Linked DNA regions of Homo sapiens: region 2 is linked to region 1. The links come from fine-mapping of genetic effects on gene expression. Tissue or cell type: esophagus mucosa. Region 1 holds a variant in brackets; the other region holds the start of a gene. All regions are shown on one strand. Distances are from middle to middle.

Region 1 (2,753 bases):
CTGACAATTAAGGGATCTGTTTTACAGGAAACTTCAAATTGGCTCTTCGGTTTCAGAAACTGTAAACCACAATACATATGCAAAGGACTGTGATTAGATTTCACCTCATCAGAGGTATCAAGTGTTTACTGAGCAACAAACTGCCTGTAACACACACTTGAGGGATGGAGGATCATATAAAACATGGCCTCTGCCTTTAAGAAAATCACTATCTGCTGACGAGGCAAGACTGGCACAGCCAACATATAACAAACACATAGTGTGTGCAAAGGCACTGCTGTTAGAGAAAAGGGAGAGGAGGCAGGCCGAGCAGCTTAGGAGAGCTAAGTGAAGGCTCACAGAGGAGACGCTTGGCCTGGCCCTTAGCAAGGGTGCCAACGCCTGCTGTGTGAGTGCACTGGGGTGAGAGGGAGAAACAGGACCGGCTGTCCTCGTCTCCAAGGGCGGACTCCAAGCTGACTCTGTTCAGGGTCAGGGGCCAGTGGAGCCAGTTCAAATCCTGATCACAACCCCCTAATGCTAATTAATCTGGTTACCTAGAGGAACTAAGTTGTCTGAGACTCTGTAAAATAAGAATAATTATTTGACTTTGTATGTTCATTGGGAGGATGAAATATGAGAATGCATGTGAACTGGTCCATATTAGGGATGTAATACATGCTACAAATTAATAATCCTTGACATCAAATAAGGTCTGACTGCCAGGGTGGGATCAGATTTTGGAAGGTCAGAAGCACCAATAGAGAAATATAGACACAATGATTTGGGGGTGATCAGCATAGAAGTGACAGCCAAAGCCATGAGAAAGAGCTTGGCCTCAGCAAGGTGGGGAGGGCTGCTGCCCACAAGCCCAGCTCCGGCCACCAGCATGCTCCCTCCCCACCCGAACCACGGGTGCCTGGGCTGCCCAGGCCCTGGCGAGCTTAGCCCAGGGCATCACCACTCACCTGCTTTCCTGAGAAGAGCACAGGAGCAGAGGTGGAACAGCAGAAATGTGAGGAGGAGAAACTGAGGCAGGAATGAAACTGAAGGGATGGTCTTAAGAGGGGCAAACAAATACTGCTAGTATGTCACAGCACAGGAGCCCAAAAGAGAAGTTTCAGGCAGAGGTGGGCGGGCGGGGAGCCTGCAGTAACATGAACTCTCAAAGTTGTGGGGAAGGGCAGCACCAAAGCAGACAATGACCCAGTGAGAAGCTGACACGGAAGCAACGGAAGATGAATCAGGAGGTTTAAGGGAACGATATGCAGCCCCGCCTAAAAAGTATGCATTCATTCATTCAGTCACTTCTGAAC[G/A]AGCCTTTACAACATGCCAGGCACTGTCGGTCATCAGAGAGAAAGTTGTGCAGGAGAGAACAGGTCCCTGTCCTCATGAAACTGACATTTCATTCCAGCCAGGAAACCAAGCACACAAACAAGACCAAAGATCCATCCTGATCGGTAAGTACTGTCTCCTGGCCTCAGACTCCCTCCTGATGGCAGGTCTCCCTCGGTGTCACAGAGAAAGGCACCACCTGACAGAGAACAAAGCCACGGTGCTCAATCCCTCCACCCCTGGCCTAGAACTCCCGGGGTGGGGAGAAAGGCATGTTCTTAACAATTGCTAATCCCGAGCAGTTTGGGACTAAGCAGAGGGAAATAGAGCTGAAGCATACACAGATGTCCACGTCACCTCCATCCCCCCAGTCTTTCCCCCTACGAGCATGCCCATGTACACACACATGCACACTGCATTTCTCCCCTCTCCTTGGATTGTTATCCCATGACCTGGCAGGGAGCCTGGCCCGTTTGCAGTTAAAGAACAAGAGGCCATTTGGAACCTGATCAGTTTCTCCTCCTCCTAAACTGAGGAAAAGGTTTTCTTCAAAATGGGAGATGTTCTCTCCCCTTAGATCTGAGCAGTGAGTCCTACTCAAACGCCAGAGGTCTGGTCTCCCAAAATACGGGTAGTAACATGTTTTTCCTGCACTGCTGTCTGGGAGGTCTCACATGTTGAACAGAGCATGACCTCAGCCCTCCTATTTCCCAGATTCCTAAAGGAAAGCCGGGCCTTTCTGTTCTGTAACTCCAGGGCATTTTGTGAAGGACTGAGCCGGCTGGGGAGCTGGAGCACAGCACACGAAGGGCCGGCTGGTGCTGAACTATGAGCAGGGCCTCCCCATGACCACTGGCAGCCATGCCATTTACACAAGGAACCATGTGGCCTTTCCCTCAACTGTCACCATCATGCAAGGGTGTTCTGGCCCAGAGCTCTTGGATCCATGGCCAAGGTCTTCTGTCCAAGGTCTCAGGCAAAACCTGTTCTCGGCCAGGAACAGTGGTTCACGCCTGTAATCCCAGCACTTTGGGAGGCCGAGGCGGGCAGATCACCTGAGGTCAGGAGTTCAAGACCATCCTGGCCAGCATGGTGAAACCCCGTCTCTACGAAAAATACAAAATTAGCCGGGTGTGGTGGCACACACGTGTAATCCCAGCTACTCGGGAGGCTGAGGCAGAAGAATCGCTTGAACCCGGGAGGCAGGGGTTGCAGTGAGCCGAGATCATACCACCGCACTCCAGCCTGGATGACAAAGCGAGACTCAAAAACAAAAACAAAACAACAACAAATCTGTTCTCAGGTCAAGTAGGGTTTGCCTACCTCCTGCCCCTCAGCTTGCCCATGCCTGACCAGAACAGTCCCCACAGCTCTTGAGAAATGATCTAGTCCAACCCTCCCCTAGATTCCTGTTCTCTAAGGACTGTTCCCATCCTTCT
Region 2 (2,627 bases), 52 kb after region 1:
ACAATCTGATTTTTTAGAATTTCAGACGAGGCACGCCTGTAATCTCAGCACTTTGGGAAGCCAGGGCAGGCCGCTCGCTTGAGCGTAGGAGTTCGAGACCAGCCTGGGCAACATGACGGAACCTCGTCTCTACCAAAAAATACAAAAATTAGCTAGGCGTGGTGGCGCCCGCCTGTAGTCCCAGCACTGGGGGACTGTGGCAGGAGGGTCGCTTGAGCCCGGGAGGTCGAGACTGCAGTGAGCCGAGATCGCGCCACTGCACTCCAGCCTGGGTGGGTGACAGCAAGACCCTGTCTAAAAAAGAAAAGAAAACAAAAGAATCTCAAAGTTGCCAGGGACCTAGGGACTTGGCTTCCGACTCTGATGCGCTTTGTAAACTACTAAAAGCTGGAGAAATAAGGGGCTGAGCCCAGCCCCACCTCCTGAATGAGCGGCCTTGGGCGAATCACTGCGTCTGGGCGCCTGGAGCTTCCCCGTCTGAAACAAAGTAGAGGATCCTACGGGAGGCGGAGTGCGAGAGCAAGGAACAAGGAAAGCCCTCGCCTTACACGCCGCGGCTTCCTGCAGAGCTGAGCCACATCCAGTACGATGGGGACAACTTGGGCTCCCGATCCTGACAGACTTGGGTTCGAACCCTCAGGGACCTCGCGCGAGGCGCTTTAGTCAGTTTCTCCATCTGCAAAATGGGCCCGAGAGCAAGAATGAGGCAGCCCGCAGGCGGACGCTGCGGAGGGGCGCTCGGGGGCTGCAGCCGGGGGCGGGTCCGGGGGCGGGTCCAGCCGGCCGAGCCCCCGCGCGAGGGGGAGGGGCGCCGTCCGCTGCGTCGCGTCGCGCACCGCGCACAGCCCGTCGCTGTCTCCTCCAGCCGTCACTCGCGGAGCCCGCGCCGCCTTTGCGCGCGCGACCCTTACATAAGCGTCCCTCGCAGCGGTGCCGGCGCACGTCCACCCGCTCCGACCCGCCGCGGGAAGAGGACCGTGCGGAGCGCGGCGGACACTCACCTCCTCGCCGTCGCCAGTCCTCGCCGCCGCCTCTACCGCTGCTGCCTCCACTGACAGAGAACAGCTGCGGTCTCCGTGCAACCGAACTTGCTGCAGTCCCGGCCCCGCCTTACGGACTTCCTATTGGCCCAGACAGCCCAACCCCTCCCGTTATTGGGCAGTGTTCTCCGTCACTCCTCGCCCCTAGGCTCTGGACTCCTCCCTGTGCCCGCCTGTCCGTCACGTTTAAGCCTTGGCGCCCCACGTCAGCCCCGCCCCTCCCGTCCCCGGCGAGCGCCTGGATAAGTGGCGAGGCTGGGAGAGCCCGCCCCTGGCGCACCACCGCCTACTCCCTTGTCTCCGGAGCCTCACGTGGGCCGCCGGACCCTAGCCGACGCCCGCAATAGGCGGAAGTGGCCGGGCTGTGGCTCGCAGTTATTGGCTGTCGGCGGGGGTGGGGACGTTCGATTCATTCACCCGAGTAGCACGTGTCTCCCGAAGCTGCAAGCACAACAGTTCGCACTGGGGCTCAGGCATCCCGGCTAGACGCAGATACGCGCTGGCTAGCGGAGAAGAGGTCGCAGGAAAAGCTAACGTTAGCGAAGGGCAGGAGGAAGGAGAAGGCGCTTGTGCCACACGGGTTACATGACTATGTCCTTTAACAGCTGCGTAGATGATGATGGGGGTCTACAGTACGTCTGTGTGACCTTGGGCAAGCAACTTAACCTCTGAGTCTCGGTTTTGTCATCTGCAGAGCGAAGCTACTCAGGACCTAGGGGGTTTGGAAGCCTTGTTTGAGACACAAGACACTTGACAAGACCCAAGACACTTGTCAAAGAGGAAAGCTTTGACAAGTGGAACAAGTGACTGAGGCATAAGTCTCTGTCATCGAGGCTTATTAATCCAGTTTGAGGGCGTGCTCGGGAAAAACACGAACCACAGACACATCCGTGGTTGTTTTTCCGAAGAGGTTTTCGGGAGGTTTAGTATTTATGCATTTCCTTAAAGGGGGAATGAGGGGAAGGCATGTAGGAAGAAGGGCAAGTAGGCGATTAGGACAATAGTTACATTCCTATGGGACTTTAGCTAATGCCCGGTAAATCTACGTAAGATGAGATGAATGTCTGAAGAGAAAAAGAGAGTAAAGGAAGAGTCAGTTATGCAGATGTCTCTGAGTAGGTAGTTTTGACTTTGTTCTGCACCTGGGAAAATAAGCTTGTAATGACATTCTTATTGTGGAATTTTTAGGAGCTAGACTTAGATTGTAGACCTGAAGCTACAATTGACCTGTCCTTGTTTATGGGAGGCCAGCAAGAATTTACTTGTGAATGATCTGTGGGGGCAGCCCTTCCCAAATGCCTGAGGTTTTTACCTTTCCGTGTGGATATGGCTGATGCCTAATGCTAGTAACAGCTATTCTTTTGGAAGAGGGTGTTGCAGTGACTCAGCTTCAAGGCTTAATCTTCACTTTCGCATGAATTGGGGCGCTGGGGGGGGGTCCCGAGATTTTTACTTTCATTCACCGCTGCGTAAACTGGGGTCTGTGCCAACCAGGGGATAAGGGAGTGACCAAACAAACCAAAATCCTGCCTTCAAAGGAGAGCAGACAGATTAATATATATATATATATATATATTTTTTTTTTTT

Direction of the effects. Alleles are on the strand shown, and positions count from the first base shown. SD is a standard deviation of normalised expression in the study named.
With allele A in place of G in region 1, the expression in esophagus mucosa of the gene that starts at base 1,063 in region 2 is higher (large effect, 0.88 SD a copy in GTEx).

What was found. PIP is the estimated chance that this variant, and not a neighbour inherited with it, causes the effect.
Region 2: PC starts here. The variant in region 1 is fine-mapped to the expression of PC in esophagus mucosa (GTEx, PIP 0.93).

The regions. Positions count from the first base shown.
Region 1 is chr11:66,904,941-66,907,693 of GRCh38, forward strand. All of the region lies in intron 3 of PC (pyruvate carboxylase), which reads right to left. Among named protein-coding and RNA genes, the nearest start is that of MIR3163, 28 kb to the right of the region's middle. RefSeq lists an enhancer at 194-841. The variant G/A (reference allele first, on the strand shown) is at 1,296.
Region 2 is chr11:66,957,321-66,959,947 of GRCh38, forward strand. It overlaps PC (pyruvate carboxylase), which reads right to left and starts at 1,063. Exons shown (of 23, transcript NM_001040716.2): 1 at 1,002-1,063. RefSeq lists silencers at 721-820, 1,141-1,500 and an enhancer at 1,021-1,070.